2 linked regions of the Homo sapiens genome follow. The protein of the gene in region 2 purifies or fractionates together with the protein of the main gene of each other region. This does not show direct contact. Each region holds a gene or a part of one and is shown on either strand. Other genes may lie near its edges.

Region 1 (3,815 bases), on a different chromosome or scaffold from region 2:
CTGTGCTCGCCCTTGTGGGGAAAGCCCACGCCCTCAAGCACAAGGTGGAACCGGTGTACTTCAAGGTATGCGCCCCCATCTGCTGCAGAGCCCCCACCGCCCACGCGTCATGGCCATCTGCAGCTCGCAGGCTCTGCGACGGCTCTCTGGAGCAACAGAGGTGATCCCCGGAGTGGCTGCGAGAGGGAGGGGCAGTGCCCGGCAGCAGGATGGAGGGGCTGGGTCCAGGGCAACCCTTGTCCTGAGAGCACGGGGTTCCCAAAGCTGCCAGACTGTTGCGTTAGGAATGATCCTCTCGGCCACACGTGGGGCGGAGGGGCCTGGGGGTTGCAGGACGCAGGGCGCCCGGGCGTTCACTCCCCCTTCCTCCCTTTGCCCCCAGATCCTCTCTGGGGTCATTCTGGAGGTGGTCGCCGAGGAATTTGCCAGTGACTTCCCACCTGAGACGCAGAGAGCCTGGGCCAAGCTGCGTGGCCTCATCTACAGCCACGTGACCGCTGCCTACAAGGAAGTGGGCTGGGTGCAGCAGGTCCCCAACGCCACCACGTGAGGAGGCGGGCGAGGGTGGGCTGGGCAGCCTCCCCGCCATGTCCTCTGCTGTCCCCGAGGTCTCCCATATCTCCTGAGGCCCTGGGGCTGATCACCTGGGCAGGCACACTTGAGGCAGGCCAACCCTGGGGTCTGACATGTAAGAACAGGCATAATAGGAAAGGCCTTCAAGATGGCTCCCCTGTGACTTCAGGCTGCTCAGAGCCATGAGCCCTGAGCAAAAATCCTCCCAAAGAGCCTTCCCCTTCCCTAGAGCCAGGGAGAGCTCAGAGCACCCAAAGCCACAGCTGCCCAGGCAGAGAGGCGCCAGAGGCTCCTGGCGGTAAGGTCCGATCATCAGGCTCGGAGGCAGCCCAGGTCAGCCCAGCCACTTCCTCCCTGGGTGCCAATCACAAGGGGCTGTTTTTTCATCTCATGCCGACCAGTGCTGCTAAATGCCCTCTGCCTCAATAGGGCTAGAGCCCGGAGGATCACGAGGACACATACACACACACACACACCCCAGCCCACGAGGAAGCTACATGGGTGTCGCTCACACGCACACGAGCAGGGGCATGTTTACTTCCAGGCTGACCTGGAGGCTGGGCTTCCAGTTCTGGGCCCAGGAGGTGGCTCAAGGAGGGTGGCCGCCCTCTGTGACTCCTGCTGACTCGGAGCGTGAGGGGAGGGCTAGCCCCCAGATGTGGCGGTTGGGAACACTCGGCCTCCCTGGGCCCCCAAGGGGAGGCTGACTCTGGGAGCTGAATGGAGAGGCGGAGGCAGGGCTGGAGTAGGAAGGAGGAGAGGAGCGGAGGCGGGAATGGGAAGCAGAGGTCAGCCAGCAGCCCGGGACACGCGTGGTAGAGAAACATTCCCGTGGTAGAGAAACATTCCCAGCAGTTTCCCATGGAAAAGGCGGCGTCTCCCGCCGGGCTCTGCACGGGCCCCCAAGACTGCCGGCCCTTCTGTTCACAGGCACAGCTCCTGGAGGAGGTCCCCTGAGGGCAGCTGGGGACGCCAGGCCTCCTGCCCTTCCTGCTGCTGACCACACTGGCCCCGGGCTGGCTCCTGCTCCCCTCCCCCCTCTCCCGTCAGCACCACCCCAAGAGAGTGGAGTCCTCGGGAACTGCTGGCTGGAGCCAAGCCAACTCCAGATGTGCACAGCTGGGCCCTGGCCTGCCTGAGACCTGGGAGTCAATGGGAAACAAGCAGATGTTGGCCCACCAGAGGAGGGCACTGGCAGGGCGTGGAGAGCAGTGGTTGCCCCCTCACCCCCCACCAGCTGTCACCCAGAGGGTCCAGGGAAAAGACAGGGGAAGAGGAGGGGAGGGGGCTTGCCTGCCCTCCCACCCCTCTCCCCACGCAGGCTCTGCTGCCAAAGATGAGTTTGTTTACAGCCAGGACACAAGACTTCCTGCTTCCAGAGAAAAGGGCTTTTTTACAAGGGCCAAGAGAGACTGGAAAGAGAGCTGGCTGGGCGCGAGCCCCAGTGAATCAGAAACACATGGCCCAAGTTCCCCAGCACGCTGCCCGTCCTGCCCTCCCCACCCTGCCCTAGGGACTAAGATCTCTCCAAACCCCAAACATTTTGAAACGGCCGAAGTCTCCTCCTCCGCCCACTTCTGCTCCTTGTGGACTGAATGGAGATGGGCTACCGTGGAAACTGGCACCCCATGGGGGTTACTCCCAGCTGTCAAGTGGTGGGGTGGTCCCCTCATCCCTTTACACCCTCTAGCCCACCCCTAGTGTCCCTGGCCTGAGCCTGCAGAGCCTCCCTGCTGCCAGGGTCCCCATGGGCTCGAGGGTAGGATGGAGTTACAGAGTAGAGTCCTAGAAGGCCCTCGCCCAACTTCTCTTATCAGGGAAGCAGGGGTGGGCCAGGCGCCACTGTTTATTGAGCCGTCTCTGCTCCAGGGTGTGCGCCTTTGCGTGGGTGGGGGGTGGGGGGGGGGCGCAATGACTGCAGGGGGCGCTGTGTGTACCGAGAATACGAGAATACAGATGGGTGGCCCGAGGAGGGACGAGACAGGCCGGACAGAATGCGCCACGTTTCAGAATTAATGGAAAAAGAGCTCACATTGGTATCGTGCTTTGCAGTTTGTGAAACACTTTTTTACCCAGTTTATGTCACAAGACAGACATTATTCACATTTTAGAGAAAAAGATCCGGAGCTCCCATGGGCCAGTAGACTTGCCTGAGATCACACAGCACGTTCGTAGCAGGACGGAGACTAGAACTTGGGTCTCACGGTTGCTTTCAACTGCACTGTGCCGGATCTCTTGGCAGGAAGTGAGCCTCGCCAGCCCCAGGTCCTCCCCCTTTCCCCCGAGGGTCCTTCCCTGCCTCTGGTAACGTTTGTCCTTCCCTTCCTATCTCGTCCACAGCCCACCGGCCACACTGCCCTCTTCGGGGCCGTAGGACCCCTAACTCCACCCCCCTCCCTGGCAGCACCTCGAGCAGAAGGCCGAGTTCTGAAGACCCTCCTTGACGCTCCATTTCTGGGTGCCAAGGAAGCTGGAGGAATCCCTGACTCAACTTCCCCGAAGGAGGCCTCTGTGGCGGCCAGGGTCCCCCCCTGGAGCTGCTGGGAGGCGGCGCTGGCTGCCTGGATGCTGACCCCAGCGCGGCGGGCAGAGCGGGGCCCACTCTTCTTAGCTTTTCTACTCACTGTTAGAGAGAGACCTAGCTGAGCGGCTGGCAGGAAGCGGGACAGGTCTAGGAGTCCCTTAGGGAATAAACCAGCCCCGTTTCTATCAGCCCGGCCAGCATGCAGGTCTCCACATCACCATCTAGAGTATCACGCACACATCTACCATATATACAGATATATTCTATATACGAGCTATATATAAATATATATATACATATATATATACACACATACATATCTAGAATGTGTATCCGCGGCGCCCAGAAGCCTCGGTTTGGCCCACCTGTGAGTGGGGCAGGGAGGGGTTCCGGTTGTGCAGAGAACAGAGTGTTCTGGCAAAGAGGAAATCCCACAGCAGCGCAGAGGACCTGGGCCTGGAGGGGCAGGGCTGGGGCAACCCGGCTTGGCGGCAAAGCCCAGCCCCTTCTCAGACCAGCTCCCCACATTCCTGAATTCCACTTCCAGGCAGAAAGGAGTGGGCTCCCCCTACTCCCTCAGAGGAACTGACTCACCGGCTGTCCTAGAATGGGCAGGGGCAGAGCGAAGTTCTGGGTGGGATGACCGCACTGGGGGAGGGGCCTCAGTCCAGAAACCTCGACCGCTAGCTCCACCTGCCTTGGCCACCAGGGCAGCCCC
Region 2 (4,551 bases):
AATGGAAACATTAAAAAGTGGAATCAAAAGGCTGTGTGAGATGGCATGTAGAGCATCTTGACAAACAAACATCTGTTTTACCCACAGATGGAACATATATGCCTTTTTAAGAAATCTGATCTTATTTCTATCCTCATACATAAAATGTAATTGAGAGAAAACAATAAATAAATAATTTACCTAATTATGAAAATAACTTCACCAAAAATAAAGGTTAACTATATATGAAAAAATAAATTCTAGGCTCCTGGAAGAAGTTGACACAGATCCCCCCTTGAACAAGTCCTCTTTAACTCAGGCCTCAAAGAATCCTACAGATAGAGTTCTAACAAATATGACCTTATTCACACACACACACACACACACACACACACATACACACAGAGAGAATAATAAGCAACTACGTGTCAGATTGAGCAGAAACAACAAAGTAAACCAGATCCACAAAACTTTAGAGATAAAATTTATATATATATATATAAAAAACACAAAATATGTTTAATATGTTTAAAGAAACAAAAGAAGGGATTTAAACACATGAGTAAGGAGGAAGAGATTAAAAAATGACAAGCCATATTTTTAGAAAGATTGAAAAAGACTTTCTAAAAATAAAAATAATAATAATTTAAATTTAAAAATAAACACAGGGAGTAACCAACTGATTAGATCCAGCTGAAGAGAAAATTTGTATATTGCAAGATAGAGATAAAGAAATAACACAAAATTATCAGCATGTTAAGGACATGGGAAAATATAAGAGATATGGAGAAAAGGTGAAAAGGGTGGCATATACATAATTGGAATTCCATAAAGATCGAAAAGAGAGAATGTTGAAAAGGCAATATTCACAAAGATGATGAGCTTTCTAGAACTGATGAAGGAATCTTGAGGATGGATGAAGAATCCTCATGCATCTTCAATCCTCATGAAATCTGCAGATTTATGAAGCTTAGAAAATCCCAAATAGGATTAAAAACACAAAAATGGAAACCTATACTTAGACACATTGCAATAAAATTGCAGTTCACCAAAGACTAAGGAAAAAAGAGCCAGAGAGGAAAGATGGACTACCTATGAAGGATGGAATTTAGACGGACAAAAGACTTCTCAACAGCGATAACAGACAGCAGAAGATTAAAAGTTCCAAATTGCTAAGAAAATATATGTCATCCTATAATTATATACTCAACAGAACTAAATTTCAAGGACCAGAGCAAGAATTAGGACATTTTCAGGTAAACTACCACTCAGAACATTTACATCCAAAATCCCCACTAAAGAAACTTCTAAAGGATATAACTGAAGTAGGAAAAGGACACTAGGGTAATGTCTGCGATGCAGGAAGATTGAATCAGCCCCCGCGGATGGGACTCTGATGCACACACAACACGTCCAACACCAGGCTCATGTGTCTTGGGAAGAACACCTGAACCATGAAAACATCCTCCCCTTAAGACCAGGACCGAGAAAGTCGGGTAATGGGCAGCATGTGCCTCTTCCTCCTTTGTCCGTGTTACTCAATAGATAGTCATCATTTTCTTTAAAAATGGTATGACAGATTAAATGAAAAAATGATTTTTAGAAAGGTTTATAAAGTTTTCAATGGAATACATTTCTCTAGCTGTAAAAGCATTTCCTGCCTTGACTTAACCACAAGACAGGATGGGTTGATGAAGCAGAGGCCCTCTTCTTTGTAGTGACGCAGAGGCAGTACAGGCTTGTGGTTAAGAGCGTGGGCTCTGGAGACAATTCGAATGCCTCTCAACAGCACTCTGGGCCCATTGGTGTTTCTTCACCTCTCTAAGTTCCAGTTTTCACATGTGTAAGTTAGTACCCAGTTTCTAAGATTGTTGTGAGGGTTAAATGAAACGACATATGAAGCAAAGTTCCTAGCACATGGGAGGCATTCACTGTACGTTAGCTGGTAATATTGTTTTAATGACATTGGTAGTCTGCACCAATCTTTGTGCTGTCCCCTACATTTTCTGAAAAGAAATCATCTTTAGTCATCTAGCCACAGCATAGCAGAAAAGCTGGAGGTGCTCAGAGTGTAATTTATATGGTAACACTTCACGTATAATACTAGGCTCTGCAGATAATAGTTGTTCATTTAATTTGGGTGGATCTGAGATTTTAGTGGAATACTGTATATAATTCCTATTACAGTATTCACATATCTTTTCAGATATTATTTTGCCTCCTTTAATCAAATTTTGAGAAAATTGTTTTTAGAACAAGCACTGAGAAATTTTGGTGAGTTTTTAATTTTTTAATTTTTACCAGATGTCAAAAAAGACAATCTACAGTATATTAAAGTATATCTATTCTTGAACAGATCTAAAAATAGTACAAATCATTGATGACGATGACCAAAAGTACAATATTTTCCTACAGTGTTATAGAAAATGCTTGCTTTCATCTATCAGTTTAATAGTTACTTATTAAGACTCTACTATATATTTCAGGCACTGTGGTAGTCACTTATTAACTAATAATTATTACTTGACATTTATTAATACTGGAAATATTCTTTCCTAATATCACATTTTTTTCTGATGGATATAAAAAGTATTTACTGGACCATTGTACAGATGAGGGATTGGTGCCAGATAGCTCTAAAGCCAGGGGCTGGTAGGCTTCTTCCTAATACTGAATGAAGTTTGCCAAAGCACTGTTTCCTGAAAAGAAAATAAAGTATGAACAACCCCCTTTTTCTATATCTATGGTTTTGCCTAATTAGTTCTAAATTTAAAGTTTGGCCCTTTACCACTGCTCAAAGTAGAGGAAACCATGTGTCTTCCTCATTTCTTTCTCTCTTATCATGCTTTGCATTACCACATTTATACAGCCTAAACCAGGAAGAATGTTGCGAACATCACTGACAATTATGCCAAAGCATGTTATCTACTTTAAAATATTATTTTATTTTTTAATCTTATACTTACCCATATTTCTTCCGGTGATGTGTTTGTTGACTGAGGAGCTTGATAAATCTGTGCCTGCATCAAGTCAAGAAGAGAAACCAACACTGCTGAGGGGACAGGAAATTGCACTCATATTTCAGCACAAACCAATGAGGAAGCAGCATCTCAATGAGAAGGGTGTGCGTTATCCAAGTTTGAACAAAAAAAGTCTCTTAAATACTTTTAAAGATGTTTTTATTTATTGTTTACTGTACTGTAATTTTTATAACTCACTTGTCTCATTGCATCTTAATTACAAGTATGTACTGATATTATATTATATGCCCTTTACTTAATGGAATATATGTTAAATATTTTATTTATTTCTTTGTTCATTCATTCATTCATTCATTCATTCACTCATCATGCCAGCAGTGTGCGGGGAGATGTATACGAACTGGCTATCAACCAAAAGCAGCTTTTTTTACCTAGTAAAGGAGAAAGACATGTTTAATAATGATTGTAATGCAATGGCAAAATGAAGAAGTACTTCAAGAGGGGTACAGATAAAATAGAATGAACCATTTGGATGTGTGAGATAGGGGAGGATATTGTAGGTAGATTCAGGGTGATAAAGTTCCTGGGACAAAAACAGAAAAGGGAGAATTGAGGCTGAGGGGTTTAATGATGGATATTGTGCTGCTTAAGGCAGGGGTTAAGGTAGCCAACCTCATACCGTCTTTCTTTTCTTTTTTTTTTTGAGAGACTAATGGGATTAGATATATAGTATTTGATTGTAGAACTATTTTCTCCTTTGATTCTCTCCTCTTGGAAACAGAGATGGCTAAAAACCAGTTGAATTAACTAGCTGAGACAAATAATTTTATGAAACTTGAAAATTTTATTTAAGACTTACATTGTTATTATAAAAACTCTTGTACTTTAGCAAGTTAAAGTTAATGCCAAATCTATAAGTGGTTTAATATGAAGTGAAATTAGCTCCTATAACTTTCTTACTATTGATATATAAAAAAGTCAGAAATATCACTTTTGAATCTTGCCCTCATAAACTTTTATTAGAAATGAAGGGAAAATATTATTTGAAAGAACAGAATTTATTTGGGATGAAAACATTTGACTTAATTTTAAAGATGTAATCAGGACATTTTGAATCTGTGTTTGTTAAAGGACATTAAGGGTTGTTGCTGGTGTTTTTTTTTTGTTGTTTTTTTCTCCCTACCCAGAGATAGAAAAGATTAGCCTGTATATAAGCAAGGCTTTCCATATTGAAGTTGATCAGGGTATATCAGGAATGTAAAGATTTTCAATACTTCCGTTGTAGGTCTTTCTTTGAGAATAATAAAACTAATACCTTACATTTATAAAGCACAGGATAGTTTATAAAGTAATTTAGCATATAGTAAATTATAAATCAATATATTGTTACTGAAATAATAAAAATTAAGTATAAAGTAAAAAATTAACAATAAATGTCTTGAAGTTTTACAAAAATGAAAAGTAACGATTTCAGTTTACTTGTGACTGTAATTCAAAGTTCTCATTTTTGCTTGGTTTCGTACATCTGCTTATCTGTGGTTTCTATACATGATATATCTTTTTTTAAGTTCGGGGTACAAGTGCATTGTTA

What was found.
Region 1: the proteins of GPR65 (region 2) and CYGB purify together in Homo sapiens (affinity purification with mass spectrometry; one large-scale study listed by BioGRID and IntAct). This does not show direct contact.

What each region holds. Positions count from the first base shown.
Region 1 is NC_000017.11:76,527,710-76,531,524, reverse strand, and holds part of CYGB (cytoglobin), read left to right. Parts: coding exon 1-65; intron 66-382; coding exon 383-546; intron 547-1,503; coding exon of another isoform or gene 1,504-1,573; exon of another isoform or gene 1,574-2,907; intron 2,908-2,913; coding exon 2,914-2,947; 3' UTR 2,948-3,815. UniProt on the Homo sapiens protein: Probable multifunctional globin with a hexacoordinated heme iron required for the catalysis of various reactions depending on redox condition of the cell as well as oxygen availability.
Region 2 is NC_000014.9:88,003,617-88,008,167, reverse strand, and holds the start of GPR65 (G-protein coupled receptor 65), read right to left. Parts: upstream 3,034-4,551; 5' UTR 2,946-3,033; intron 1-2,945. UniProt on the Homo sapiens protein: Proton-sensing G-protein coupled receptor activated by extracellular pH, which is required to monitor pH changes and generate adaptive reactions. Activated by an optimal pH of 7.4.